Linked DNA regions of Homo sapiens. The protein of the gene in region 2 purifies or fractionates together with the protein of the main gene of each other region. This does not show direct contact. Each region holds a gene or a part of one and is shown on either strand. Other genes may lie near its edges. The genes, in order: MTO1, RABL2A and ALMS1.

Region 1 (10,272 bases), on a different chromosome or scaffold from region 2:
AGGCAGGAGAATCACTTGAACTCGGGAGGTGGAGGTTGCAGTGAGCTGAGATCGTGCCATTGCACTCCAGCCTGGGCAACAAGAGCGAAACTCTGTCTCAAAAAAAAAAAAAAAAAAAAAAAAAACTTTTGGAGGTCTTGATTCTTGATGTGGTGGCAGTGGATATGTGGATATTGACATAACTTGCCCATCCCTCCACCTCCCACAAAAACTTTTGAGGTAACCACATGGGTTTAGACCTCCAGGTAAGACTGGGTAAATGTAAGGGAAAGGTATAAAATATGGTCTTCACTCACAAGAAATTTGTAATTTAATTATATTTAATTCTGCAAAGTAAGTGCAAAAAGGAGATATCAGATGGCATTTATGGAAGACATAATTGGTTGTAACTGAACCAGTGCCAAGGGGCTTCTTTGTTTTTTCTTTTTTCTTTTCTTTTTTTTTTTGAGATGGAGTCACTGTTGTCACCCAGGGTGGAGTGCGATGGTGCCATCTCGGCTCACTGCAACCTCAGCCTCCCAGGGTCAAGCGATTCTTTTGCCTCAGCCTCCCAAGTAGCTGGGATTACAGGTGCAAACTGCCATGCCTGGCTATTTTTTTGTATTTTAGTAGAGACGGGGTTTCACCGTGTCGCCCAGGGTGGTCTCAAACTTCTGAGCTCCAGCAATCCACCCTCTTTGGCCTCCCAAAGTGCTAGGATTACAGGCGTGAGCCACCACACCCGGCCCTGTTTTTTATTTATTTATTTATTTTTGTCCTTATTTATGTTGAAGGACTAGGGACTTCTTACAAGTGTGCTTGATTTGGTAGATTCCTCTGGTGCTGTATCAAAAAAGAACAAATTTAAAAACCAAGTATACTTGGTTTAGAAAGGTTTCATGGGGTAAGGATTACATGTTTGAAAGGAAAAGGCAACCTAGTGAAACAGTAAAAATATGCATCAAGGAAGAGATTCAAAAGAAAGTTCAGGCCGGGCGCGGTGGCTCACGGCTGTAATCCCAGCACTCTGGGAGGCCGAGGTGGGCAGATCACCTGAGGTCAGGAGTTTGAGACCAGCCTGGTCGACATGGTGAAACCCGTCTACCAAAAATACAAAAATTAGCCAGGCGTGGTGCCGGACACCTGTAATCCCGGCTACTCGGGATGCTGAGGCAGGAGAATCGCTTGAACCCAGGAGGCAGAGGTTGCAGTGAGCCGAGATTGTACCACTGCACTCCAGCCTGGGTGACAGAGTGAGACTCCATCTTAAAAAAAACAAAAGGAAGTTCAGGAAGTGGTTTGTCATCCAGGTTGCCCTGGACACTTTTGCATCCCATTGGGTCTTTGGGATTTTCTTTGTAGTATATCTTTCACGTTTTCTATTTTTTATCATATGAGATGATTATAGTCACCTGTATAAATGTTTCCTTATTAAGTAGTCACTATGTGCAAGGTGCTCATATATTTATTTTGTTTATGTCTATTATCTTTAGGTCAGATGTCATGTAATCCTTCCTTTGGTGGCATCGGAAAGGGACATTTAATGAGGGAAGTAGATGCCTTGGATGGCCTGTGTTCTCGCATCTGTGACCAGTCTGGTGTACATTATAAAGTATTAAACCGGCGTAAGGGACCAGCTGTGTGGGGTCTGAGAGCTCAGATTGATAGGAAACTCTATAAACAGAACATGCAGGTAAGAATAGGGCATGAGCACAGGAAAGATTATAGTGATTGTTTAATTACCATGTTTCAACTGGCATTTTCTTTTGACAGAAAGAAATCTTGAATACACCACTGCTTACTGTTCAGGAGGGAGCTGTAGAAGATCTTATTCTTACAGAACCAGAGCCTGAACACACTGGGAAATGCCGTGTCAGTGGGGTTGTTTTGGGTACGTATTGGTTATAGATGGTGTATGATAACAGCATATCAAATTCCATGTGAGAAATTTATTTTAGAGCAAAGTGTGGAGATATGTTGCTTATTCAAGGAACTTGTTGCATTTTCTCTACCTGGATGAGGAAAACTATATAAATAAATATGTTTCTCTTTTCATCTTGGCATTTATGATGCTCAGTCAAATTCTAGGCTCATCAGTACCATGTTCCATCTTAGTGTAGAACTTTGTAATCTGCATATTTATGTCTCCCTCTCTCCCCATCTTTCTATTGTAATTTCTGTTTTTTCTGGTTCTGACTTTAATTTTTTAAAAAATTCATATTTTAACAGCTTATATATATTTTTATGTAAAAGAGTTATGTATGTTTTTTATCAAAATAACTCATGCATATAATTTTTTCTTAAAATATTAAAAGGGTCTGGGCATGGTGGCTCATGCCCGTAATCCTAGCACTTTGGGAGGCCGAGGTAGGTGGATTGCTTGAGCCCCAGAGTTTGAGACCAGCCTCGGCAAGATGGCAAAACCTCATGTCTACAAAAAAATACAAAAATTAGCCGGTGTGGTAGCAGGTGCCTGTAGTTTCAGCTACTCAATAAGCTGAAGTGGGAGGATTGCTTGAGCCCAGGAGGTTGAGACTTCAGTGAGCTGTGATTATGCCACTGCACTCCAGCCTGGGCAACAGAGTGAGACCCTGTGTCAAAAAAAAATAAAAAATAAGTTTGGGTGTAGTGGCTCACACCTGTAATCCCAACACTTTGGGAGGCCAAGGCAGGCAGATCACCTGAGGTTGGGAGTTCAAGACCAGCCTGAACAACATGGAGAAACACATCTCTACTAAAAATACAAAATTAGCCAGGTGTGGTGGCGCATGCTTGAAATCCCAGCTACTCAGGAGGCTGAGGCCAGAGAATCACTTGAACCCAGGAGGCGGAGGTTGTGGTGAGCCGAGATCACACCATTGCTCTCCAGCCTGGGCAACAAGAGCGAAACTCTGTCTCAAAATAAATAAATAAATAAATAAATAAATATAAAAGAAATTTAGAAATTTATGTGGGAAAACAACCATCTCCTTCCCTGGAGACAGACACTTCAGCTTTTTTAGTTGTCACTTATTGTATATACTTCCATATTTCTGAATAGCAGGCTTATCTTTTTACTTCCTAATTTACAGTTCTAGACATTATCTATTAACTTTTTTTGTTTGTTTGTTTTTGTTTTTGTTTTTGAGACGGAGTCTCACTCTGTGCCAGGCTGGAATGCAGTGGTGCGATATCGGCTCACCACAACCTGAGCCTCCCGGGTTCAAGCGATTCTCCTGCCTCAGCCTCCTGAGTAGCTGGGACTACAGGCACGTACCACCATGCCCAGCTAATTTTTGTATTTTTAGTAGAGATGGGGTTTCACCACGTTGGCCAGGATGGTCTTGTTCTCCTGACCTTGTGATCCACCCGCCTCGCCCTCCCAGAGTGCTGGGATTACAGCTGTGAGCCACCGCACCCAGCCATCTATTAACATTTTTTGAGACAGAGTCTGGCTCTGTTGCCTAGGCTGGAGTGCAGTGGTACCATCTTGGCTCACTGCAACGTTCCCCTCCCAGGTTCAAGCAATTCTCCTGCCTCAGCCTCCCAAGTAGCTGGGGTTACAGGCGACTGCCACCATGCCCGGCTAATTTTTTGTATTTTTAGTAGAGACAGGGTTTCACCATGTTGGTCAGGCTGGTCTTGAACTCCTGACCTCAAGCGATCCGCCCACCTCAGCGTCTGAAAATGCTGGGATTACAGGCATGAGCACTGTGCCCAGCCTATTAACTTATTATTATGGTAATTCTCTTTAATGTCCAATTTTCCTTCCCTCTCTCCTTCTGATATAATTATACCGTAATTTTTGGTTGATAGTATTTACATTATTGACTAAGTATTGTTTACTGCATGGAAGTGTATTATGTTTGTCCCTTTCTTATGCTTGGTTTTGCCTTGAGTTAATAATTGCTTTATTTTATTTATTTATTTTGAGACAGAGTCTCACTCTGTCACCCAGGCTAGAGTGCAGTGGTACGATCTTGGCTCACTGCAACCTCCATCTCCCAGGTTCAAGCAATTCTCCTGCCTCAGCCTCACGAGTAGCTGGGATTACAGACAGCAGCAACCACGCCCAGCTAATTTTTGTGTTTTTAGTGGAGACAGGGTTTTACCATGTTGGCCAGGCTGGTCTTGAACTCCTGACCTCAAGTGATCCGCCTACCTCCACCTCCCAAAGTGCTGGTATTATAGGGGTGAGCCACCACACCTGGCCTTCTCCAGATTTTTTAGTTCTGTTTATGTGTTTGGGCTGCTCTCTTTCATGTACACAACTTCCTTTAAGTATCTAGCGAACTTTGGTTTTCTGTTGACTTCTTTGCGTTTTTGGTTTTGGAGACAGGGTCTTACTCTGTCACCCAGGATGGAGTGCAGTGGCACTATAATCGCTCACTGTAGCCTCCACCTCCCAGAGGTGATCCTTCCACCTCAACCTCCCAAGTAGCTGGGACTATAGGTGTACACTACCACACCCAGCTTATTTTCAATTTTTTTGGAGACGTGGGATCTCCCTATGTTGCTTCCCTGTGTTGCCTAGACTGGTCTTGAACTCCTAGGCTCAAGTGATCCTCCCACCTCAACCACCCAAAGTGTTGGGATTACAGGCATGAGCTGCCATGCCCAGCCTGTTACATTTTTAAATGAGGCACTAGGTCGGGCATGGTGGCTCACGCCTGTAATCCCAGCACTTTGGGAGGCTGAGGCGGGCGGATCACTGAGGTCAGGAGTTTGAGACTAGCCTGGCCAACATGGTGAACCTGTCTCTACTAAAAATAAAAAAATTAGCTGGGCGTGGTGGCATGCACCTGTAATCCCAGCTACTCAGGAGGCTGAGGCAAGAGAATCGCTTGAACCCAGGAGGCGGAGGTTGCAGTGAGCCGAGATCGTGCCACTGCACTCCAGCCTGGGCGACAAGAGTGAGACTCCATCTCTAAATAAATAAATAAGGCGCTAAAACACTTAACTGGAAGATTTGTGTGTACACAGTTAATTTTATTGCCTGGCTGATTCTGGTGGTGATTAAGACTTGAACTGCTGGACACGGTGGCTCACGCCTGTAATCCCAGCACTTTAGGAGGCCGAGGTGGGTGGATCACCTGAGGTTGGGAGTTGAAGACCAGCCTGACCAACATGGAGAAACCCCGTCTCTACTAAAAATACAAAATTACCCAGGTGTGGTGGCACATGCCTGTAATCCTAGCCACTCGGGAGGCTGAGGCAGGAGAACCACTTGAACCCTGGAGGTGCGGGTTGTGGTAAGCCGTGATAGTGCCACTGCACTCCAGCCTGGTAACGAGCAAAACTCCGTCTCAAAAAAAAAGAAAAGATTTGAACCAGCCTTTTGGTTTGGTGAATTCTCAAATATCAATGTCTGTTAGTTCTCAGAAGAATCAGTTTTCCACCTAAGAGAGTAATATGGCTACCCACTAGCGTTCTGGGAACAAAATGGTAAGAGAGGCTGTGCCAGGGAGTGTCATCTTTTATTTTATTTTATTTATTTATTTATTTTTATTTTTTCTTTTTATTTATTTTTGAGACAGAGTCTCACTGTGTAGCCCAGGCTGGAGTGCAATGGCGTGATCTCGGCTTACTGCAACCTCTGCCCCCCAGGTTCAAGCGATTCTCCTGCCTCAGCCTCTCGAGTAGCTGGGACTACAGGCACGTGCCACCATGCCCGGCTACTTTTTTGTATTTTTAGTAGAGATGGGGTTTCACTGTGTTAGCCAGGATGTTCTCGATCTCCTGACCTTGTGGTCCGCCCACCTCGGCCTCCCAAAGTGCTGGGATTACAGGCATGAGCCACCGCGCGTGGCCCAGGAGTGTCATCTTTTAAAATACATATCTTAATTCCCATTTTCATTTTTATTATAGATTTATTAATTTTCTTGATTGGGAAATACATACTTAGGGCCAACAACTTAAAGGCTACAAAAAGCATATAGAGTGAAAAGATAGTCTGTCTTAGCTGGGCATTATGGGCATTATGTGATTATGGCTCACACCTATAATCCCAGCACTTTGGAAGGCCGAGGCAGGTGGATCACCTGAGGTCGGGAGTTTGAGACCAGTCTGGCCAACATGGCGAAACTCGTCTCTACTAAAAATACAAAAATTAGCCAGGCATGATGGCTCACGCCTGTAGTCCCAGCTACTCAGGAGGCTAAGGCAGGAGAATCACTTGAACCTGGGAGATGGAGGTTGCAGTGAGCTGAGATCTTGCTACTGCACTCCAGCCTGGGTGAGAGAGCAAGAGTCTGTCTCAATAGAAAAAAAAAAGATAGTCTGTCTCCTTCACTTTGTCCCCTCAACCAGCCAGTTTTCTTTCTCAGGAGCATTTGCTTTGTTAATCTGTTGTGTGGTCTTTCTACCTAGGCATATGTACATGTCTTCATGCATATGTATATGTATTTTTTGTTGTTTTCACAAAATCGTAGCATATTATACACACTGTTCCTCTGTACCTTTTTTTAAAAAAAAAACTTAATCTGTGTTTGCTTTGCTTTTGGAGGCCATGCTTTTTTTTTTTAAGTTTGTGGGTTTGTTCCGATGGTTACCTTAAAAGCTATGATTTTATATATAATATAATATGCTCACTGACTTCCCTCAAGTAACAATTACTAAATTAGTTTTACTTTCATTTCCTTTTCTCCCCCGACTTTCTTTATTTTCCAGATTTAATGGTTATATTGTTTTTATTAGTATTTATGTTTATACCCTTAAATTGTTTATTTTTTTATTTTTGAGACAAGTTCTCTCCCTCTTTCTTAGGCTGGAGTGCAGTGGCATGATCACAGCTCGCTGTAGCCTCGACCACCTGGACCCAAGTGATCTTCCTGCCTCAGCCTCCTGTGTAGCTGGGACCACAGGCATGTGTCACCACCCCTGGCTAATTTATTATTTTTTTTTGTAGAGATGGGGGTCTCACTATGTTGCCAGGACTGGTCTTGAACCCCAGGGCTCCAGTGATCTTCCTGCCCCAGTCTCTCAAAGTGTTCATATTATAGTCATGAGCCACTGAGCCTGGCCGATTTAATTTAATATCTTTAAATGCTATTTTGTGATCCTGTCCATATTTTATAGGCCCAACAATAACAATTTTTTTGTGGTAAAATATACAAACCATAAAATGTACCATTTTAACCATTTTTAAGTGTACAATTCAGTGCTATTAAGTACATTGACAGTGTTGTGCACCCATCACCACCAACGGTCTCTTGAACTTTTTCATCATCCCAAATTAAAATTCTGTACCCATTAAACAAAAAGTCCCCATTACCTGAAGAATAAACCTCCATTTTACTGTAAGGTAGAGCTATCTGAGGACAAAACCTTAATGTGTAAATTTCAGCTGTTTCTTTCATTTTCTGTTCCAAGTTTCATTTCTACATTCCTCCTCAGTTCTTATTCTCAGTTCTCTAATTTCTGAGCCTTTGCAGGGCAAATTAGTTCATTCTCATTGATATATCTTCTCTTCAGATATTAATACTTAAGTTATAGCTATCTCCCCTCTGCTAGATGAGTTACCATTCTTCCAAACACTTTCTATCTTTCAAAAATACATTGAAATTTCTCATCTTCTGACTGGTTCTTTTTCATTACTTGTCCTTTTGGTTTTATACCTTTTTTATTCCCCTATTTAATTTTCTTTGAGTTTTAGAAGGGAGAAGAAATGAGAGGTTGTATGCCATATTTATCCTGAAGTCTAAAATTAATTAATTTTTTAAATTAATTGAGACTAACTTTTTAGTGCTGATATGATTTTAGGTACATGTGAATTGGTGATAACACATTGTATTCTCTCTCCTAGATTGCTTAGATTGAGATTGATAACATATTAGCCTTCTTACTCATTTAAAATTCTTTGTCTGGGGTAGGGGAAATGGGAAGATACTGCTCAAAGGTTATACATTTTCAGCTGTAAGTTGAATAAGTTCTAGCAATCTAGTGAGCAGTATGGTAACTGCAGTTAATAATAATGTATGATATACTTGAAATTTGCTAAGGGAGTAGATCATAAGTGTTCTCACCACACAAAACGTGTAACTATGTGAGGTGATGGTTATATTAATTAGCTTGATTATGGGTATCATCACAGAAGGTATACTTGTATCAAAACACCATGTTGCATACTCTAAATATATACAGTTTTTTATATGTCTGTTATATGTCGATAAGTCTTGAAAAAACAAAAATATTAAAAAAGATTCTCAAGTTTTTAAAGACTGATAGTTTTTCTGTAGTTGTAATGTAAAATAGTCACATTCCATTTTGATCCATGGTAACAATTTAAAAAATGACTTTAGGCCGGGCGCGGTGGCTCACGCCTGTAAGTAATCCCAGCGCTTTGGGAGGCAGAGGTGGGTGGATCACCTGAGGTCGGGAATTCGAGACCAGCCTGACCAACATGGAGAAACCCCATCTCTACTAAAAATATAAAACTAGCTGAGCGTGGTGGCGCATGCCTGTAATCTCAGCTACTCGGGAGGCTGAGGCAGGAGAATTGCTTGAACCCGGGAGGCGGAGGTTGCAGTGAGCGGACATTGCACCACTGCCCTCCAGCCTGGCGATAGAGTGAGACTTCATCTCAGATAGATAGATAGATAGATAGATACATAGATACATAAATACATAGATACATAGATAATGACTTTATTCTTTTTTCTTGTTATTTAGTGGATGGAAGCACAGTATATGCAGAGAGTGTGATTCTGACTACTGGGACATTTCTGAGAGGCATGATTGTAATTGGATTGGAGACGCATCCAGCAGGACGTTTAGGGGATCAGCCTTCTATAGGATTGGCTCAGACACTGGAGAAGTTAGGGTTTGTGGTGGGAAGGTTGAAGACTGGGACTCCACCCCGAATTGCCAAAGAGTCCATTAATTTCAGTATTCTAAACAAGCATATACCGGACAATCCATCCATACCATTCAGCTTTACCAATGAGACAGTATGGATTAAGGTAAGATACTTTACGAAAACCTGGCTTACAGCTGGTATTGGCTATTCACAGCAGGAAGTACTGTAACTTTTTTTTTTTTTTTTTGGCAGCAGTTCACTTTATAGCACTATTGCTTATAGTGCAAAGAAATGATTTTTTTTTTTTTTTTTTGAGATAAGGTCTCACCTTGTCACCCAGGCTGGAGTGCAGTGGTACAATTATGGGTCACTACAGCCTTGACCTCCTGGGCTCAAGTGATCCTCCCACCTCAACCCCCTTGAGTAGCTGAGACCATAGGCATGAGCCATTGTGCCTGGCTTTTTAAAATTTTTTTGAGAAATGGGGTTTCACTATGTTGCCCAGGCTGGTCTCGAACTCCTGGGCTCAAAGGATCCACCCCCCTTGGCCTCCCAAAGTGCTGGGATTGCAGGTGTAAACCACCGAACCCAGCCAAAGAAGTTATCCTTTTTTTTTTTTGTGGTGGAGACTTGCTCTGTCACCCAGACTGGAGAGCAGTGGCACGATCTCAGCTCACTGCAACGTCTGCCTCCTGGGTTCAAGCAGTTCTTCTGCCTCAGCCTCCCGAGTATACAGGCACGCGCCACCACACCCGGCTAATTTTTATATTTTTAATAGAGACAGTGTTTCACCATATTGGCCAGGCTGGTCTCGAACTCCTGACCTCGTGATCCACCCATTTCAGCCTCTCAAAGTGCTGGGATTATAGGCGTCAGCCACTGCACTCAGCCTAAAGAAGTAATCTCTAAAAGGGATTAGCTAACTTGGCTAATTGGGTATTTCCCCATAAATCGTAAATTTCTTTTTTTTGTTTTTTTGAGACAGTCTCAGTCTGTCGCCCTGCTGGAGCGCAATGGTGAAATCTTGGTGCACTGCAACTTCCGCATCCTGGGTTCAAGCGATTCTCCCACCTCAGCCTCCCTAGTAGCTGGGATTGCAAGCACCCGCCATCATGCCTGGCTAATTTTTATAGTTTTGTAGAGACGGGGTTTCACCATGTTGGCCAGGCTGGTTTTGAACTCCTGACCTTAGGTGATCCGCCTGCCTCAACCTCCCAAAGTGCTGGTGCTGGGATTACAGATGTGAGCCACTGCACCCGACTTTTTTTTTTTTCTTTTTTTGAGACGGAGTTTCGCCATTGTTGCCCAGGCTGGAGTGCAATGGCGCAATCTCGGCTTACTGCAACCTCCGCCTCCCAGGTTCAAGCAATTCTCCTGCCTCAGCCTCCTGAGTAGCTGGGATTACAGGCTCCTGCCGCCACACTGGCTAATTTTTGTATTTTTAATAGAGACGGTGTTTTGCCATGTTGGCCGGGCTGGTTTCAAACTCCTTACCTTAGGTAATCCACCCTCCTCAG
Region 2 (10,580 bases):
TTCAGTTCAAACTCTCCCATTTCTTTTCTCTCCCTCTGTTCTAGCCACTGGCCATTTCCTCCTTTTGTTGTTGAAATGCTCCTGCCAGATATCTGCAAGGCTTACTCCTTGCTTTTTTCAAGTCTTTGACCCAATGTTACCTTTACAACTAGGCCTTCCCTGACCACTCTCTTGACATTGCAACCTTTTTTCCCTCACGTTTTGAAGGGTCACTGCTTGCCTGTCAGTGTAATACACTCTAACCATGATTTTATACTTCTGATATTTAAACTGCAGCTTGAATTGTAAAAGGAGGATAGATTTTATTTATAACTATAAAGAAACAGCACCCTTACTATAAAGAAAACACATCATCTTCTTAGATCACGTAGAAAATTACACAAAGAAATTACCGTGGCCAGAGGTTAAGATGGTCAATGAAAAAGACTCAAGCTCAGAACACTGTCTTGAGAGGGCACATGCTCAGAAAGTGCAGGAGGAAGAGGAGAGATCCATAAACTTGCCTCATCCAAGCAGAAGCAGTGAAAGAATAAAAACACAGGCACAGAGGGATTTTCTTAAGGAAAAGTTGCCTCTGGAAGACAGGATGAAGGAGGGAAAAAGAGGCCCCAGAGACTCATTCCCTCCCAACGTTCTGCAGCTTAGCAGAGAACCAGCTCGGCAGGCCTGAGCTCAAAAACAGAGCAGGCCTACCTCCGGAGGCTCTAGGAAGCTGCCTCTGTCACTGTCACATACACAGATGTTCCCTGTCTTCTTTTCCCAAAAATATTTAGAGTAGGCACTGGTCACTGGTGGCCTAAGCACAACTCCCTCAGGATAATGAGAGCTTGGGACCCAGGGAGTCACATGGTGTGACCTTTCTGCTTGTAAGTTTCCCCCATCACTCTAGTCTGTACTCACACCATGTGGCCTTAGTTTTGGGTGGGGGGGGTGTGCCTTTGCCCTCTTTGCACAACGATGATAGGCAATCATTAACGGTAATGGAAGACCCTAAAGGCCAAGTTAGACAGCTATCAAAGAAAAAAGACAACACATCTGGACCTAACTACTCTTAAAGATGGAATCAGAAAGCCACGTCTTGTTGGCTGGGTGCGGTGGCTCACACCTGTAATCCCAGCGCTTTGGGAGGCCAAGGCAGACAGATCACTTGAGGTTAGGAATTCCAGACCAACCTGGCCAACATGGCAAAACCTCTGCTAAAAATACAAAAAAATTAGCTAGGCATGGTGGCGCATGCCTGTAATCCCAGCTACTCAGGAGGCTGAGGCATGAGAATTGCTTGAACCTGGGAGGCGGAGGTTGCAGTGAGCCGAGATTGCCCCACTGTACTCCAGCCTGGGTGACAGAGCAAGACTCTGTCTCAAAAAAAAACCAAAAAAACAAAAAAACACCATGTCTTGTTATTAAGCAGTATGATCACCTGGGGTCAAAAGAAATCTGGTCGGGTGCAGTGGCTCACACCTGTAATGGCAGCTCAGGAAGGTGGCATGTGCAGGAGCAAAGGAAAAGCCTTCCACAGGAGGCAGTGCCCAGGTCTGAGGTCACCTGTTCACAGGGGGTAGGGGAGCTGTCATCAGAGCCCACCAACAGAGCCCTGAGTGGAATCAAGAAGCATGAACATGCTGCATGAGAAAAAAAAAAAAAGGCACCTTAAAGAAAGCCTGGTGACTGGGGCTGCTACCGTGGTAAATTTCTGAACTCTGCAAGAAGGCCGCACTGCCACAACATTGCTATCTAGAAATGAGGCCGTGTACAACTGACGCCCTTCAGATATGATGAACACAAGTGTTAACTTTTTTTTTTGAGACAGGGTCTTGCTCTGTCACTAGGCTAGAGTGCAGTGGCACAATCATAGCTCACCACAGCCTGATGTGTCAACCTCTTAATGGGTGTTTTAGCCCAACCGAGTTTAGATTCATAGGTTAGAGATACTGAAAATTGGCAGTAGTTCTTGAGTCCAATCAAAACTGAACCACAGTGTTCTCATGCACTCACCTTCCCTCAGATGCACTGTTTCCATCATGGTCTTTGTATCTGGGACAACCTTTTGCCTGAGATACTGCTAGTGGATGAAGACTGGCTTGTTTTCTAATTGTTGTGTCTGTGGAGGCCAATGTTATGGTAATCTTTGACGTCAAGTTAACTACTTGGATTCTTATTTTTTGTTACTGTTTGAAATGAGGCATATAAAGAGACTAGCATTGAACTTGGGAGCTGGGTATACCAAGATACATTCTCCGAAAGCTCTGTTTGTTATTAAAGTGGCAATTTGCTCTACACCTGCCTGCCATTTCTATTCTTTGTTGTTTTAAACTTGAGTGGGGATAAAGGGGGTATTATTTATTGGGTAACCTTCCCAAACTACAACACCTACCCTCACTTTTACTGTACAGGCGTGCTGTTGAGGATGGTCAAAGTAACTATAAAATACTAAACCAGAGGCCGGGCGCGGTGGCTCATGCCTATAATCCCAGCACTTTCGGAGGCTGAGGTGGGCGGATCACGAGGTCAGGAGATCAAGACCATCCTGGCTAACAAGGTGAAGCCCCGTCTCTACTAAAAATACAAAAATAAAATTAGCTGGGTGTGGTGGCGGGCGCCTGTAGTCCTAGCTACTCGCAAGGCTGTGGCAGGAGAATGGTGTGAACCCGGGAGGCGGAGCTTGCAGTGAGCCGAGATCACGTCACTGCACTCCAGCCTGGGGGACAGAGCGAGACTCCGTCTCAAAAAAAAAAAAAAAATTCTAAACCAGAGCTGCAGTGTGTGATTGTGTGGTGGGGAAGAGAGAGAGAGAGAGAGACAGAGAATTCAAATTCATGGAGATGGCCTAAAAACCAGCAAAGCCCCCAGAGAATTATTCACAGCTACCTGAGTCAAAGGACTTGACTATAAAAATGAAGGTAGAAACCAAGGTGGGCCTGGAGTACTTGGGAGATAAACGTGACCACTTCTCTGGGCAGGGGCAAGTGTACCGTCATGCTATGAAGGCGGAAATGGACATGTGCCCTCAGCAGTCCTAGGCGTGAGAACTAGGACGTCTCATGGAGACAAGCTGGCAGCACGGCAGAGCCTCCCTTCACCTCTCCAGGTGGCATGTAGGCACCGAAATTCATTACAAGAAGAAGCCAGTCTTCACAATGATTATAGTCAATCGTCAGTTCTACCCAGTTTTCTCTATTTCAGAGAGTCCCTCCAAGAAAGCATCTTTACCACCTTTACCCAATCTGTCACGGTGGCATAGTCACTTTTGTCTTTCCATTCCCACTCCCCGCCCTTGCCATCCCTCAGCCCACAAACCACATACAATGTCCTCAGTTGCTCCACACGTTCTCTCAGGGCTCAGAGGAAACATTCAAATTCCTCAGTCCTTATGACCTGCCCCCTCCACCCGACACACACAACGGGTCATGTGATTCCCCTCGTTCCCCCATGAACATCTGGGCTCCAGCCAAGACTGCTCCTTCACCAGCCCCAAGAAGCCATGCTCCTCTGCCTCTGGAGGACTTTTTAAATGACCTGGACCCTCTCTGGGGCTGGTATTTATTCCCTAATCTCCCAACATACTTGGATTTGCCCACTGCGCTGTCTCCCAGGCAGATGATCTTCACGTTGTCATCAGCATCATACTTCCCTTGGTCCAACTCACTCGGTTTGGTTTTGTCTTCTGCCATTGGCTCCTAGCTGTAGAGAGGGGTCCAGCCCAAGGGAGGGGAGGGTATTGTCACTGTCTGGGAAGATCAACAAGAGGCTGTTGTCAGAGATAAGTCCCCTCAACCAAATCTCCAGCTGTACCTCCATCCAGACTGCTTCCCTCAGTGCCAGACTGAGATATGGTATGCAATTGGCTACTAGACTTGGAGTAGCAGAGGATGACACACAGGCATCAGTAATATGTTATACACAAATAGTTAAGTCCTGCGCACCCCAAATGCTGCTCCTCACGTTACCCATTTGCACAAGACATTCACCAGGCATCCAGTGCCAAAGGCTGTGTGCAACATTATGTCTAGCTCTGTTTTACTCTCCTCACACCTAAATATGACTTTGCAGACATTCCTGAGAATGTAACCACAGTCCAGACTCTTAGCTAGGGGGGCACATAGAAATGATATGATGATGAGATAGCAGCAATAGGTGAGCCTTACTGGGCATTCACCATGAGCAGACCTTGCACAGGGTTCAGAGGATGGAAGACACAATGATAGCAGAGTCTACTGTGGTGAGAGCTACGACAGAAGTATGCACACGGGTCAGGGGTAGAAAATACCAACAGGGCCCCCGAGTTTTCCTGACTGTGCCACCACACAGCTACTGCTTCTGCACAGCCAGGGACTTCGCCTTGTTTATCCAGGGAGACAATTCCTGGGAAGTGGCAGATGCCTGGAAAGCATGATGAGGGGTCTGCCCCCTTTCACCTGTACCCTGTAGAGAGAGCGACAGAAAGCCAAATCCAGCTTCATGGCTCCATGCTTGAAGACGTTCTTTCTTTTGTTTAGAGATAGGGTCTCACTCTGTCGCCCAGGCTGGAGTGCAGTGGCGCGATCACGGCTCACTGCAGCCTCCAACTCCTGGACTCAAGCGATCCTCCCTCCTCGGCATCCCTGGACTATAGGCGTGAGCCACCGCTTACGGGCGAAGACTTGCTTGTCGATGTCCTCGCCATCTAAGTGGGTATGCTATCTTTCGATAAATGTTTTTGGCCACCAACCATGTCCAGGCATCGCCAGGCTGCCCGTCCCGCCCCCCACAACAGCCTCGCGAAGCCACCTTTCCGTGCTTCCCCCGACCCGGACGCCCTCTCGCCCACACCGCTAGGGAGGCCTCGGAGGGGCTGTCCCCGCGTGCTAAGCCAGCCACCGGGGCGGATTTGCCCTCACGTGCGGTTCCGAGTGAGGGCTGGAGAGACCAGGGACGCTGCGGGTCGGCCCCTCGGGCCCTGCCGCCAGTCTGGACTCTGCGCGCTCTCGAACCACCCCGCCGGCCCAGCTCGCACCGCAGCGCACTCCACTTCCGGCTCGCCCCGCGTCCTCGCAGCTGCTACGCAACCGCGCAAGGACCCCGAGGGAGGCTGCCCGGCCGAAGGCCTGAAGGACCCCGCCGGGGCGCTGGCTGCCCAGCGCGGCGCCTGGCGGGAGGGCCGCAGGGAGTGCGCATGCGGCCGAGTGCGGGACTGGGGCTCCTGGCTGTGGGTGTGGTACTGAGGCTTCAGCGGGTGCCGCCCGCCTAGAGGGAGTGGAGCGGTGAGCACGTCAGGGGTGGGGGGCGCAGGTCAAGCTTTCACCAGTTTTTAATTCTTTGATGGGGTAAATTTGAGCAATTTTCTCGACTTGTCGACATTCGTTATTAACTGAGCAGGAATCAGGAGAGGAACCCGGTCCTCTCCACACAGCCCAGCAGGTACGCCGCCCATGTGCCTGTGGAGAAGAGAGGTTCCTGTGGGGCAGACAGGTGTGGACCAAGTAGCTGTGAAATTTCTTCTGAAGAAAACACACAAGGAGGAAGCGAGTGAGCTCAGTGGAGGAGGGGCGCTACCCCAGGGGACGTCCCCATGCATGGGCTTGTGAACCTCGAATATGTGAGACGGTCTCAGTCAATTTAGAAAGTTTATTTTGCCAAGGTTGAGGACGCACGCCCGTGACACAGCCTCAGGAGGTCTTGACATGTGCCAAAGGTGGTCGGGACACAGCTTGCTTTTATACATTTTAGGGAGACAGGAGACATCAATATATGTAAGATGAACGTTGGTTCCCTCGGGAAAGGCGGGACAACTCGAAGCAGGGAGGGGGCTTCCAGGTCACAGGTAGGTGAGAGACAAACTGTTGTATTCTTTCGGGTTTCTGAATAGCCTCCGCAAAGGAGGCTATCACATATTAACCTATCTCAGTGAGCAGAGGGGTGACTTTGAATAGATGGGGAGGCAGGTTTGCCCTAAGCAGTTCCCAGCTTTTTTCCCTTTAGCTTAGTGATTTTGGGGCCCCCAGATTCATTTTCCTTTCACAGGCTAGACAGCTTTAGGAACTGAAAGGTTCACGAGGCTGTAACGAAGAGTCGAGTTGCTCCAGGTGAGCCTGGGCCACAACAGCAGGCAGGACCTGGGCGCCCACGAGGGGCTCCTGGGAGGGTTCGGGAAAGGGATGTGTGAACCCTATCTGAGATGGTTTCAGGTAATTTAGAAAGACGTGCACCCGTGACACAGCCTCAGGAGGTCTTGACGACATGTGCCCAAGGTGGTCAGGGCACAGCTTGGTTTTAGGGAGACATGAGACATCAATCAATATATGTAAGAAGTACGTTGCTTCCATCCAGAAAGGTGGGGACAACTGGAAGCAGGGAGGGGGCTTCCAAGGTCACAGGTAGGTGAGAGACAAAGGTTGCATTGTTTTGAGTTTCTGATTAGCCTCTCCAAAGCAGGGAATCAGATATGCACCTATCTTAGTGAGGAGATAGGTGACTTGGAATAGAAAGGGAGGCAGGTTTGCCCTGAGCAGTTCCCAGCTTGACTTTTCCTTTAGCTTAGTAATTTTGGGTCCCCAAAATTTTCCTTTCAGAGAGCCTACGACTAGATTTGCATCTTTACGTCCTGCGCGGAGGCTGCTACACACATGCAGAAGTCATGCTGGTGGCCTGGACATTGAAGGGAGAGAAGTGGATTTGGGAGACATTTAGGAGGTAAGATTGCTAGGACCTTGGTGATAGCTTGGACATGGAGGGTGGAGGAGGAGGGGTGTCTAGCATAATGCTCTTAGGTTACCACCTGGGATATTAGGGAGAGTGAGCAGGCTGTTTTTTGTTTGTTAGGCAGAACTTGGTTTTGCGGTGCAGTAGGGTGCCTGGAGCCGAAAGCCTGACTTCCTCACACAGGCCAGACCCCACATGTGACTGCCAGGCCACTTTGAGGCTGAGAGAGATGGTTTTGTCTGGCCTCTGTCCTGCACATGTTTACGGATGACCTCTGTGTTGGCAGATTTGGGGGTCCGCCAGATAGGATCCTGTGAAGAGACCTCAAAGGTCTTTAGTCCAATCTATAAAACATTTTTATGTTGATTATATCATTTCCACAATCAAAGATGAAGAATATATACAGAGGTGTATTTAGTGAATAAGGTTGATGGTGCACCTGCGCTAGGCAGTGTTTTAGTTCGTTGAGACACCAAGGAGTTGAGACAATCCTTTCTTTACCTCAGAGTTTTGTGTGTGTAAGTCCTGCTGTTGAGAGGTGTGTGTGTTAAAATGTCTGATTTGGGCAGGTGAGATCTGGGCCCTCTGTAAGGTTAGGTAACAGGAGGTTGGTGTCCAGCAAATATTCAGTGCCCCATCAACATCCCAGTTCTTGTCCACCAATCTTCCAATTCTAGGACTGATGCGGAGGCCCTCAGAGCGACTTCAGAGGAGAAGTAGTATGCTCTGTGGCTATCTTGTTTTGGAGTGTAATTTGTAAATCCTCTGCAAACAAAACGTTGGAAACAAGTAGTGTTTTGGCTTGAGTTTCCTGTAAACGGCTTACAGTCGTTGGGTTAGGGTTGGGTTAGGGTGATGGTGAGGGTGGGGGGTGAGGGTTAGGGGTTAGGGTTAGGGTAGGGTCAGAGTTAGGGTCAGGGTCAGAGTCATGGTTAGGGGTTAGGGTTAGGGTCAAGGTCAGGGGTTAGGGTTAGGGGTTAGGGTTTAGGGTTAGGGGTTGGGGTTAGGGGTTAGGGGTTAGGGTTAGGGGTTAGGGGTTAGGGTTAGGGTTAGGATTAGGGGTTATGGTTAGGGTTATGGTACTGTAAATAATTTCACATTATTACTAATAATAAATTATTATTTGTATTACACTATTACATAATGTAAAGGCTATTAAGACATGTTTGTCTTCAAAGAATGGCCTTGGTTTCTGTGGGCAGTGTCCTCATGGAAAGGTAATGAGTTCCTGCTAAATCATGGACAAAACGGGCTTCCAGGAGCTACAGGCTGCAGCAGCAGCTTCTCCTCTACGTCCTTCACTGCCTCATACTGTTGTTGACTTTGAAAGCTTTTTTCAGTCTAGTTTTATCAACAGCTAGTATTTTCATGAGGTTCTACTACATACCATGTTCCAGAAAGCTAAATGCCTTTTGTTTGTTATTATTCACTAAATACAAATCACAACTCTCTCCTCATTACTCACACAACAAAATTTAGCTGAGGGAGACTGAGTGACTGTCCCAGGGTCACACAGCTACTAAGAGCAGAGTCGTGTTTAGATTCATGTGGGAATACTGAACACAGACATGAACCAGTGGAAACATCCTACGTTCCAAAAGCCTACTCAAGCCATTTGTTCTTATTTTAAGGAAAATCTTTATGCTAATTTTAAACTCCAAATACTTATGAATGGCAGAGATCTACAGATTTGATTCTGATGTAAGAAATGATGGTCACCAGCTGGTTACTGCTACCACCCCACAACCCCGAGCATACTGGACGAATGTCTAAGCCTTGTGGTTAGTGGGGACAATGCTGGTGGAGTCTGAAGTTGTCATGCAGTGACTCATGCAAGCTTAGGCAGATTTGGTGATATACGACACAGAGATGCAAAGAAATGTTGTAGCTGACACACACCGGCTGGCTCTGGGAGATGCAGAAGGAGCACGTCACCCAAAATAGAGCCAGACAGACATCCTTAAGGAAAGAGCCAAGGGGCTGCATCTTAAAGAATGAAGAAAGGATTTGTCATGAGAGATGGGACAGGAAGTTCTTGAGAGGCAGAGGGAGATTGTGAGAATGTTGGGAAGGGAGGAGAGATTCTCGCACATCTGGGAAGCTGACAATCCATCAGCATGTCCAGAAGGAAAATAAGGAGGAGGAGCAGAAACAGATGAGGCTGGATATAGAAGCAGGGCTGAAGCTGTGTCGATTGTGGTAAAGAGTTGCGATTCTATCCAGAAGGCAATAGGTAGCATTCTAAACAGAGATCTTTTAAAACAAGAGTCAGCAAATATTTTCTGCAAGGGGCTAAGTGTTAAATATTTCAAGTTTTCCAAGCCATATGGTCTCTCTCTCAATGACTCTGCTCTTCCATTATACCGTGAAAGTAGCCAGAGACATTATGTAACACATGTATTGGCTGTGTCCCATTACAACTTTACTTACAAACGCAGACTGTGTCAGACATGGTCCATGCATGGTAGTTTGCCACACTCTGTTTTAGAAAGCTCAGGTTTATGATGTGATGGAGAATGCCCACAAGAGCTCTTGTTTTAAATGGTAGAGTGAACATACACTGGAATTCTATCCTGCTTGACCCAAGCTCTTGATAGCGAAAGGTAGAAAAGATAGATGGTAAACAGATAGATAGATGATAGATAAAGAAAATACATAGCTGTTCCAGAAAACAGAAATGGATAACTTCATGAACCAAAAGCAGAGTAATATACTTTAGAAAGGAAGCAGGCCAGAAAACCCACAGTTGCAAAGCAAATAGAATTTCCAACTGCCTCTTGTAGCCCCTTCCTGGAAGTAGTCACAGCCCAGGGTGTTTGACTTCTTCCTCTGTTTTTTGTTTGTTTGTTGTTTGCTTTTCTCTGGGGTTTTTGTTGTTGTTGTTTGCTTTTTTAAAAAAAAATTCCCTTTCCCTGCTTTTTTGTCACAGCAGCCTTTGTCACTTCAAACACCGCAAGTGTTCTTTAAAAAAAATTATATCAACCTTTCAATTAAAATGCAACATGTCTGAAACTTGGTATCTGGAGAGGTGAGTTGGACAAAGGAGCCCTTGTTACTGCATGTTTTCATTCTTCAAATTTCACCTTGCACGCAGTAACAGACAGTGCACAAAGCCACTTCCTTATGGACGGAAATTCTGAAATCCTTTTATGCCTGGCCTTTCCATCCTTCATCTTCCCCTCTCCCACACTGTGAAGGATCGTATTGGACATTTTTGTTTTAATGTCAGTGACAGGGGAACACAGGTAGCTCTAATATAGCTGTGACCCAGATGCTTCTGTTTCTAGCACGTATTTATTTTGCAGCAAACATTTACATCCATGATGTTTTACTGTTTTTTGAAAATAATTAGGCAATATCTCATCTGAGGTAGGATGTTTCTAGGGGTTGTGTTCTGAGGGAGGAAAACTAATCTGTTCTCTTTCCACTGCATTCTAGGAACAGTAAGAGGACCTTGTGCATGAATAATTTGTTTCCACACTACAGAGTGGGTAATAAGCAGATTAGTAAAAACAATTCTGCTTCACTTCAATAACAGCCTCCTCCAACTCATTTTTTCTCAACAAACTTATTTTTCCAGCAGAAGAATCCCAGTCTTCTTAGAGAACCCAGTGACTTTTTGCACCTTAAATCTGTGAAATCCTCATGTTTTCTTCTGCCGTATCCATAGTTCAAACAAAGATGAGGCAAAGCTAGATGCATTCCTGAAGGAACCCAAGAAATTCCTCTCTTTATTTCTCTGGAATGAAATGAATTCTCTAGACGACCAGTTCTAACCTTCAAAAACCAAACCTGTTTGTGAGATCTCCTTCAAATACTACTGTAGACCCCAGTGTTTATTCATTAAATTTTAAAATATTTGTTTTATTTGGAATCCATGTATTTGTAATTTTAGTGTTTGT
Region 3 (10,760 bases), about 40 Mb from region 2:
TTTGTCATTTAACTTGAGAGTAAACTGGATGAAATTAATGTTTCCTATTATTTGATCTCATCCTCTAAATACGCAGCATTAGATGTTATACAACACATCTAAGAATTTCATAGTTCATAAATTTCTAGCAAGAAACATACTAAGCATTTTTTCCTTAAACACTTTCCAACCTATGCCAGTAAGTTTCAATATGCCAGTGAACTAAAGGAAAAATTATCTGAACACTCCTTGTATCATTGTAAATCTACCTTTAATACAGAAAATCATCTATATATTCTATATATTATCATATATTCTCTCAGGTAAATAAGAAAATATCTAATTTTTCTCAGGGGAAAGAAAAAACTGTGGGGAGGAAAAAATACTCTGGGCTCTCAGAAGTAAGATTTTCTATTACCCATAGATAGTTCACGATTAGAGGCCGGGCGCGGTGGCTCATGCCTCTAATCCCAACACTTTGGGAGGCTGAGGCAGGCAGATCACAGGTCAGGAGTTCAAGACCAGCCTGGCCAACATGGTGAAACCCCATCTCTACTAAAACTACAAAAATTAGCCAGGCGTGGTGGTGGATACCTGTAATCCCAGCTACTCGGGAGGCTGAGGCAGGAGAATTGCTTGAACCCAGGAGGCAGAGGTTGCAGTGAACCAAGATCGTGACACTGCACTCCAGCCTGGGCAACAGAGCAAGACTTCATCTCGGCGGGGGAAAAAAAAGATAGTTCATTATTAAACAGGAAAATAATTTTCTCACATTGGCTGTAGTAAAAGAGGGTTAGCTTAAAAATTCCTCCTCTGGGTCCCTATCTCTCACCATATGCAAAGATTAACTCAAGATAGATTAAAGATTTAAATGTAAGGCCCGAAATTATAATAATCCTAAAGAATACTTAGGAAAAAAGTTTATGATTAAGACCTCAAAAGCAAATGCAACAAAAATAAAAACAGACAAATGGAACTTAATTAAACTAGAAGAGCTCCTGCACAGCAAAATAAACTACCAACAGAGTAAACAGACAACCTACAGGATGGGAGAAAATATCTGCAAACTATGCATCTGACAAAGGACTAATATCCAGCATCTATAAGGAACTCAAACAAATCAACAGGAAGAAAAAACAAATAACCCCACTAAAAAGCGGGCAAAAGACTGAACAGACACTTCTCAAAAGAAGACATACGAGCGGCCAAAAAACATGAAAAAATGCTCAACATCACTAAGCATCAGAGAAATGCAAATTAAAATCACAATGAGATACCATCTCACACCAGTCAGAATGGCTATTATTAAAAAGTCAAAAAACAGATGTTGGCAAGGATGAGAAGAAAAGGGAACACGTATACACTGTTGTTGGGAATGTAAATTGTTCAACTCCTATGGAAAGCAGTATGGAGATTTCTTGAAGAACTCAAAACAGAACTACCATTTGACCCAGCAATCCTACTACTGGGTATCTCTCCAAAGGAAATTAAATCATTTCATCAAAAAGACATCTGAGCCAGGCACACTGGCTCACACCTGTAATCCCAGCACTTTGGGAAGCCAAGGCGGAGTATCACTTGAGCCCAGGTGTTCTACACCAGCTAGACGCCATTAAAAAAAAAGAAAAAAATCTGTGCTCATATGTTTATCACAGCACCGTTCACAATAGCAAAGTCATGAAATCAACCTAAGTGTCCATCAACAACTGAATGGGTAAAGAAAATGTAGTATGTATTAATATACATTGTGGAATATTATGCAGCTATAAACAGAATGAAATCCTGTCCTTTGCAGCAACATGGATGGAGCCTGGAGGCTATTTATCAAGTGAAACAATTCAGAAACAGAAAATCAAATACCACATGCTCTCACTGGTAAGACAAGTGGGTACAATGGGTACACAGAGGCATAAAGATAAATGGGTACAATAAGTACCCACAGACATAAAGATGGAAATAAACAGACACTGGGGGCTCCAGAAGGAGGAGAGAAGGGCTGAAAAATTACCTATCAAGTACAATGTTACACTATCACGTACAAAGGTATATTATTTGGGTGAGAGGTTCACTAGAAGCCCAAACCTCACCATTATGCAATATATCCATGTTAATTACGTGCATATGTACCCCCAAATCTAAAATTAAATTAAAATTTTGTTTAAAAAACTCCTCCTCTAGGCTTCAAGATAAAGTTTGAATATTAATAGTTATTCAAGCAAGAAGTCACAGGACAAAATAAAAGTTAGAAGACCTAGTCAACAAGTGTGGCTTTAATTATGGTCTCTATGTAAATGACTTACAACTTGAAATCTCTAGCCCAGCCTTCTCCTTCAATCTTCAAAACCAAACTCATAATCTTAAGACTCACCCAACCAATTCCACCACCCACTCACAGCCACCACCTCCACCATAAATCTGGCCATATCTTAATATTGGCACAACCATTCAAACAATAACCTAACACCTGGCTACTTCACCTTTCACATCCCATCCGTTATTAAGTATGATGATTTTGCCTCTTAAATATCTCTCAAATCAGTCCACTTTTCCCTGTATCCACCAACACTTCCCTATTCCAAACTTTCATCATCTTTTGCCGGGCAATGCTGCAATGGTCTCCTAATTTATGCCCTTGACCTATGGCTACTGCTCCCCATCCCACCTTGCTATCACAGCTGTTCCACACTCTGCTATACACCTGACCTTTCTGAAACACCTAACTTATCATACATCCCCTCGTTTCAAATATTTTCTTCAACTCCCCAAAGCTCCAGAGATAAAGCCCCTAAATCCTTGGCATAGCACACAAAGCCTTGCAGTCTGTGCTCAAACCACGTTGGCTTCTGGGTCCTGGAAAATGCCATGCTCTCTCTCATCAACAGTACCTTTTCATGTGTTTTTCCCTCAGCTAGACGGCTCTTTCCCTCCCCTTTGCCTGATTAACCTTAAACTGTCTTCAGATATCAGCTCTATCATAACCTCCTCAAGAAGGCTTTCCCAACTTCACTGACAAGGCCAGATTATCTTACTTTATGCTTTCATAGAATATTAGCACATATATTAGTTTCACTTTATGTGATCATCTGAAATCTGTCTGCCTCCCTGTCTAGACCATGAACACAAGGAAGGCAGAGACCAAAAATGTTTGGGTTCACCAAGCTTTCCTTAGCACCCAGCACAATGTGTGGCACATGGTGAATTCTAATAATACATGTTCAATGAATTAAGTACCCCCTGGAATATTCACCAGACAAAACAACAACTACTGCTCATTAGTGACAAAACTCTACACCTTCACTGTCTGTGATGATGGAACTGTTCCATTATCTGCTCTGTCCAACATGGTAGCCACTAGCCTAGTGTGGCTGCTGAGCACTTGAAAACCGGTAAGAACAGACGCATGGAATTTTTCATTTAATTTATTTTTAACTCTTACTCAAAACTATAATAGTTTTCTCTTTAAGATGTAAAAAGCCACACGTGGCCAGTGGCTACTGTACTGAGCAGGGCAGGTCTTGCTCCTCGAAAAGCAGTAAGTTAAAAAAAGGGGGGTAAGGGCAGCAAATTAAATGGAGAGTTATTTTCAAAATGATCTTCGGGGGTCTACCATGAAATCGGCTTTCTCCATTGTGTATTATCTGTGCTTTGTAGTTTTGCAGACTGTTTGGAGCCGCATCACAAGCCTCCTGCATTCCAAGCCCCTCCTATCGGCTGGGGAACCCCTTTATTGCTACAAATGATGGTCCAGGGGAGGAAAACCCGCGGGGAGCCTCTCCAGACTAAGTGATCGCGCGGTGTACATTATCCACATTACTCCCTCAGGGGAGTCCTGCAATTCAGTCAAGCTCATCTGTTCACTGTCTCCCCAACAAGATGCTCCCCAGGCAACCACTCGCTCCGGTCCTACACCGCCTTTTCCCTCCTTCAAGGCTCGACACACCCGTGGTCCTCTCTCAGCGTTTCTCACGGGGAATGCAGGCTCCCCTGAACGTCTACGGGAGTTCAAAAGGCCCAGGACCCACCGAGGGGGAGGAAACGAGAAGTCTTTGCCACAAAGCCTGGGAGACGCGGAGCAGCCGGCCGGCACCTGGGCTGGAGTCTGGGCCGCCTACTAGCCTCAGCTGCGCGCGTTTTCTCCGTCAGGCGGCGTGACCTGCGGGCGGGCGGAGCGCTCGGGGCCCAGCCTCCACCCCCAACTCGCCGCGGCTCCACACCCCTCCCCGGCCCGCCTCACCTTCTCCAGGGAGGTCCGCTCGCCCTCCGAGTAGCGGTGCTGCGGGGGCGACAGCGGAGGCAAAATCCTGCCGGGGTGCGCCTGCAGCCAGGCCTTGGCCTCCTCGTCCTCCTCGTCGTCTATACTTTCCAGATGCTGGGGCCCGTAGTGAGAGTCGGAGTCCAACTCCCGCCCCGCCTCTTCCTCCACCTCCTCCACGACCACTACGTCGTCCACGTTCGCCGCCGCCGCCGCTGCAGCCTCCTCCTCTTCCTCCTCCTCCTCCTCCTCCTCCTCCTCCTCCTCCTCCAGCTCGCCCGGCCATGGCAGATCCTCGGGCTCCATGTTGGTGTCTCGCTCTGGGCGGCAGAGGAGGAGGAGGAGGGGGGGAGGGAGGGGAAGGGGAGAGCCCTGACTGGCGGTTGTGGCCCAGCTTAGGCGCAGTGCCGCCCGCCTGGGCGGGGCCGGAAGACCGCGCGCGCGTTGCTAGGGACGCCGCGCGAGGCCCGGCGGGAACGCCTTAGGGCGGAGGTTTGCTACAGGCGACGTTGCCGCCTCGCCGCCGTCACCGGCCGGGACCTTGCGAACTGTACTGTAAGCTCACAATAAACCGGGACTGGGCGCCTTCCGGGGCGCAGAGGGCCCCGCGCAAGGACAGTGTAGTTCTCGGCTGGGGTCGAGTTTCGCCCCTGCACAGAGAAGAGATCAAACTCTAGGACGTACCCGTTATAATCACACATGCAAATTATAAAGTTTTAAAGGTTGAGTATCTCCTAAAGTGTCAAGCTGTATGGTGGGCGCTTGAACCTAACCGTGGAAAAGTGTCACGGGTTGTTAGAGGGATTAAGAACTGGGCACTGGCATCAGAAAGATCGGAGTTTGAATCCTGGCATCACCACTTAAAGTGGTGTGACTTTGTGTTTATAAAACGATGATAATAGGCCATCGCATAGGATGGGTGTGATAATTAAAGGAAATAATCAATGTGAAGGACTTAGTGATAGGTTGGTTATTGTACAATAACTCATTAGATGCTCACGGTTCTGTGAGACAAGTATTACTATTTCATGTATGAAGAATCTGAGGCTAAAAAAATTAATTTGCCCAAAGTTTCTTACCTAGTAAGTGGCTGACTCAGTATGCCATCCCAGGTCCTCTGTTAGTGTAGGAATTGCCCTGGCCTAGACCAACCAGCTGTTAAAGGATAACAGAGCAAATATTTATACTGATAGTACATATGTTTTGGTGGTTCGTCAATGACTTTGGAGTGCTTTAAAAACAAAGATTTCCTGACCGCTTCAGGAACCTCTACGAAATGAATGGCAAATTAAAGTATCTTAAGATGCCATGTAACCAGACACCACCTGTACCCCCAATAACCTATGGGGAAAATTTTTAAATTAAAATTTTAAATAATAATTATAATCTTGAGATGCTTCACTGTTACCAAAGGAAATAGCCATAATTAAAGTGGAGTCCAGCAAAAAGTCTTCATGGTATTACCCACAATAGTAGAGATACATTGATAATGATGCTGAACCAATGTTGGTGGGGCAATTTTAGGGTTATTGCCAAGGATGTATGTCCTGCCTACCTGTCAATGACCCAATCCTGGCAAAACTTTAAGGGTAGAACATGAACTGGAGCCCAGTCTTGGAGTTCTGTTGAACACCTCTAAATGGACTATGAGTACATTAGGGTTATTTATTCTTAAGGGGTTTAGGGGTTCTCCTTGCCGGAGACCTATTACTGTAATAGTAGAAAAGAATTTATTAATTTTGTATTCCTGAATGTGAAATCTCAATGTTTATCTCCAGTAAGAGGACACACATTTCACTGATATTAAATAACTGTAAAGCTTTACCTTTTTAGAAACTCCGCTATCTTTTTGCATCCACAAATTTCAGGAAAGATAAAGAGAACTAATAGAATTCTAAAAAATAGCTTTCAAAGTTCTCTAACTTCCATCTAACTTCCAAAGCCCAAAGTACTTCTATTTGCCTTGATGGCAATAAGGTCAGTCCATTCTAAGGCCCATAAGTTATCTCCTTCTGAGTTAATAACAGGCTTCCTCATGTATTTGTGAATTACTTCCAATACTAGATGCTACTAATATAAGCTGTTATCACTAATTGCTGCAGGAGACTTCTAAGATTAACTCCTGCTTTATCAACAACAGATGGAAGCTGCATTCTCAAAGCACCCACCTAAGCAGCTTCTGAAGTTAGAGATTTGGTCTTCTGAAAAAGCATTAGAAAACAATTTCCCTTGAGCCTCAATGCAAGAAAAAAAAATGTCAGGTACTATCAACAACTGACCCAGGAGTAAAACTAGAAGACATTGATCCCTGGATTCATATTACACAACTAAAAAGACATGCATCATTTTCTCCTGGCTACCGGACATCCCATACTATTGGAAGACCTCAAACTGAAGATTCCTGGGACTTCCCCAGAAGCTGCTTACTGCAGAAATGGGCAGTTTATACCCAAGACAACAGGACAAGATTAATTTCTGATTCCTTGGCATCTCTTACCCTACCACTAATCTTGCTTATTGCATTTTGACACCCTTGATTAACTAACAAATTGATTTCTCGGGGAGATAACCCTTATCTTCATCCTGTTACTTTTGACTCCCTATGTTCTACTACTTAAAGTAAACATTATTTGGCCAGGTGCAGTGGGTCATACCTGTAATTCCAGCACTTTAGAAAGCCAAGGTGGGAAGATCACTTGAGACCAGGAGTCTAACTAACGTAGGCAATGTAGCAAGACCCCCATCTCTAAAAACAATAAAAAATTAGCTGGGCATGGTGGCACGTATCTGGAGTCCCAGCTACTCAGGAGGCTGAGGCAAGAGGGTCCTTGAAGCTCAGGAGTCCAAGACTGCAGTGAGCTGTGATCGTGCCAATGGGCAACAAAGTGAAACCCAATCTAAAAAAGAAAGAGAGAAAGGGAGAAGAGAGAAAGAGAAAGGAAAGGAAAGGAGGGGAAAGGGGAAAGGGAAAGAGAAAGGAAAGGGAAGGAAAAAAAGAAAAGAAAAGAGACACTTTCTGGAGTGTTTTTCTCAAACCGTAGCTACTGCTTTTAAGGAATTGTTGACAAAATTTAATAACTGTGCTTTCATAGACTTCATCAAGTAGATTTTCTTCTGTAGGTCACTTCTGGTACTTAAGCATTCCCCACAAAGTTCATCCCAAACCTCAGTCTTCTAAAAATTGGACCTTGACCTACACTTCAACAGAATGTTTCCCTGAAGTCATTACAATCCTATGAGAAAAACCTAGCCCTTCAGGAATAGAAACTAATATTGGGGCTATTCTTTATACACTACTCAGGTCATTCTCTTCCAAAACATTCCAGCCTGCTTTGGAGAAACCTGTTTAACTTCATCCAAGAAATCTGCTTATCCTGAGGGAAAGAAAGTTGGCTTGTCCCTGATGTGCTAAATAGCCCTTATCCTCCCAATGCAGTCTGTACTCCCCTAGGGTACTACTTATTTATGGGAACATCTGGCTTGCCCACTAACTTACCCTTTATATTGAAGCTAATTGTTAGAGACCCTCCAGTGCTTAAAATTACCACCCCTCCAGTAGACTGTGTTTCTTTGAAAAGAACACCCAGAAACCAACAAAATGAAGCAAGCACACAATCACAGACTACTTGGGAGAACTCCCAGGAGGGATAACTGACTCATTTTTCATGTGTACTCTGTGAATGAAATTCCTACAACAAAGATAATACAACAGAAAGAGATCAGATCCAAGAGAGGTATTTGACCTTAGCAGACCCCATAGATAGCAAAACTTCTGCTATAGCAGCTCAGAAAACCACTTAAATTTGAATTCCTTAGCCAGAGTTTTCATGGATAATTATATAACCCTTGATTTCTTCTTAGCTGGCCAAGGAGGAGTTTGTATTTAGCAACACTTGTCACCATACTCACATACTACTGGGCCAGTAGAACATACTACAGAGTCAGTAGAACATGAGTAAACTGAAAAGAGAAAATCCTCCTGGCTCCCTAAAAACAGACTCAGCTGGATTCTGGGGCATGTTTTCATTGCCAGGACTTTATAATCTGGGTCCCTGTCTTCAAGACTTTTTACAAAGATGGATAATCATTTTGTTTCTGGTAATTGCTTCTTTTGCACTTGGTCAACGTATCCTATCCACAGCCCTAGTTTCTGCACAGCCATTGTCATATCATATGATTCAACAAATCCTACAACAGAAGGCGGAATTAACCCAACTACAGACTGCATCCTCCAGATCAGCATAAATTTAGCAATAGTGAAAATCTGAATATCATAGATTAATGGTCCTGTGGCCTGACTTTGTCTACCCTTGACCAACTGGAGGACTCACTAAATAAATCTAGGGTGCCTGGGAACTGGTCTGACACAGGTAACTAAGCCTCAGGGTTGTCACATGCTGGCCTGGCATTCACCATCATCCCTCAATATTCTCCTGTTGAGCATAAATAATCTCACAGAACACCGACATCACACATGGTCTTTCTGTGACTGAAGAAACGAGACATGACAAGACCATTTCATAACCTTGCCTAAGCACAGACAAAAACAACGTTACTGTGCACATCAAACACCCTCCTTTTCCAGTTAATTTGATGGCTGTTTTTTTAAATCAATTATAGCTCTACCATCACTGTGGTTTGTTTTTTTTTTTTTTTTTGCTGTCACCTAGGCTGGAGTGCAGTGGCACGATCATGGCTTACTGCAGCCTCGACTTCACCAGCTCCAGTGATCCTCTCACCTCAGCCTCCTGAGTAGCTGGAACAACAGGTGTGTGCCACCGTGCTCAGCTAATTTTTTTTTTTTTGGTAGAGATGGAGTTTCGCCATGGTTCCCAGGCTGGTCCTGAACTCCTGGGCTCAAGCAGTCCACCCGCCTTGGCCTCCCAAAGTGCTGGGGTTACAGGCTTGAGCCACTGTGCCCAGCCCATCACTGTATTCTTTTCCTCTGAATAAAATTTATTAAGATGCCCAATCATAGAATTACTCCCTCATCTTGACAGCATCCAATACACAGAAAAGCACTGGCCTTTAAAACTTGCCCCCTAAAATCACCTAACACAAGGCAAATCCTATAACTCCTAGTAACATCCCAATATGGAGATCTCTCATGATCTCCCATGGTGTGCGTTCTCCCTTGTTGCAATGAATAGTGAAACCAACACTGGGTTGCTAGAGAACATTGACACATTAAACTAAAGGAAGCAATTATGTAAGTTCTAGTTCTACCCTGGTTTTAATTTTTTATCTTTTTTTAGGCATAAGGTCTTACTATTGCCCAGGCTGGACTCAAACTCTTAGGCTCAAGCAATCCTCCCACTCAGCCTCTTGAGTAGTTGGGACTACAGGCACATACCTACACACAGCTTGCCAGTTTTAAACTTCCCATGAGTGGAATGTATTCCTAGTTACCAGAATCCTGGTTTCTGTCCTGAAGCACAGTACCTCCTGATCAAAGGTTTACTGAGTACTTTCTAGGTTCCAGGCACTGTACTAGGAAACAGGAATGTTGCCTGCTGGTACCAACCTACTATGGCCAAGCAAGTGCTCCTAATGATGTTTCCCTCTAGTAGCAGCAGGTATTAAGATGCTGCTGCCAAAAGGAGCTGAGGGTCCTGAGAATGGGAAAAGATAGGTGGAGGCCCATATGGAACATGAGACCTACCCATATACTTTGAACAGAGGATCCTATACCTGGGACTCATGGTGCAGGTTCCTGGCTATCAATCCCCATAGCAGGACTGCACCAAATGAGTACATAAAAACGCCAGACAACTCAAAATGGAGCAGATTCCTGCTGCCCCACATCTAACTTGCCCACAGGCCCAAGAGACTGCTCAGACTAGAATTGCCTCTCTCGTGGTGCAGCCCTTTCTTCATCTAGGGGCCAAAAGGCAATGAAAGAAGGAGCAAGGGCAGCATGCCCTCCTTTCCCCCTCCTACATCCATTGTTATTGCTGCCACCTTCTTCTCCTCCTCCTCCTTTTGCTTCTCTTCCTCCCCTCCTTGTCTTTCTTCTTCTTTTCTCTCTGTTTCTGGATAAACAAAGATGATAGATGAAAAAACCTGTCAGTTATAGAAAAAAATCTTAATTGAGGTTTGAGAAGGCAAGCATAAGACAAAAGGCAGACGACAGGAAAAAGTGAAGGAACTGGTCATTAAAACCATAAAACACTGTAGCATGTGCACACTGCTACAGAGTCTGCATTTGCTATGTTCCCACATATCCCCCATTGCTCACGCTTTTATTTGATTAAGTTTCCTGATCAAATGTCAGAGGTCTTCTCTGATCATCCAGTCTAAGATATAAAACAGCAGACATACCCGACATACTCCATCATTCTCCAACCCATGACTCTGCTTTATTCCTACACCTATTATTAGCTGACATTACATATGTTTGTCTATATTCTGTCTCCACCCACTAGAATGTAAGTGTCATGAAAGCAGGGAGCCTGTCTTTTTCACTTTAGCTCTAACGCCTGGAATTATGCCTGATGTATAGTTGCCCTCAATGTTTGTCCAATGAATA

Evidence for each region.
Region 1: the proteins of RABL2A (region 2) and MTO1 purify together in Homo sapiens (affinity purification with mass spectrometry, with the first as the bait; 2 studies listed by BioGRID). This does not show direct contact.
Region 3: the proteins of RABL2A (region 2) and ALMS1 purify together in Homo sapiens (affinity purification with mass spectrometry, with the first as the bait; 2 studies listed by BioGRID). This does not show direct contact.

The regions. Positions count from the first base shown.
Region 1 is NC_000006.12:73,464,737-73,475,008, forward strand, and holds part of MTO1 (5-taurinomethyluridine-[tRNA] synthase subunit MTO1, mitochondrial), read left to right. Parts: intron 1-1,472; coding exon 1,473-1,672; intron 1,673-1,752; coding exon 1,753-1,870; intron 1,871-8,628; coding exon 8,629-8,918; intron 8,919-10,272. UniProt on the Homo sapiens protein: Component of the GTPBP3-MTO1 complex that catalyzes the 5-taurinomethyluridine (taum(5)U) modification at the 34th wobble position (U34) of mitochondrial tRNAs (mt-tRNAs), which plays a role in mt-tRNA decoding and mitochondrial translation.
Region 2 is NC_000002.12:113,621,698-113,632,277, reverse strand, and holds the start of RABL2A (rab-like protein 2A), read right to left. Parts: upstream 5,013-10,580; 5' UTR 4,878-5,012; exon of another isoform or gene 4,810-4,877; intron 4,664-4,809; exon of another isoform or gene 3,725-4,663; 5' UTR 3,672-3,724; coding exon 3,565-3,671; intron 1-3,564. UniProt on the Homo sapiens protein: Plays an essential role in male fertility, sperm intra-flagellar transport, and tail assembly.
Region 3 is NC_000002.12:73,379,646-73,390,405, reverse strand, and holds the start of ALMS1 (centrosome-associated protein ALMS1), read right to left. Parts: upstream 4,571-10,760; 5' UTR 4,538-4,570; coding exon 4,214-4,537; intron 1-4,213. UniProt on the Homo sapiens protein: Involved in PCM1-dependent intracellular transport. Required, directly or indirectly, for the localization of NCAPD2 to the proximal ends of centrioles.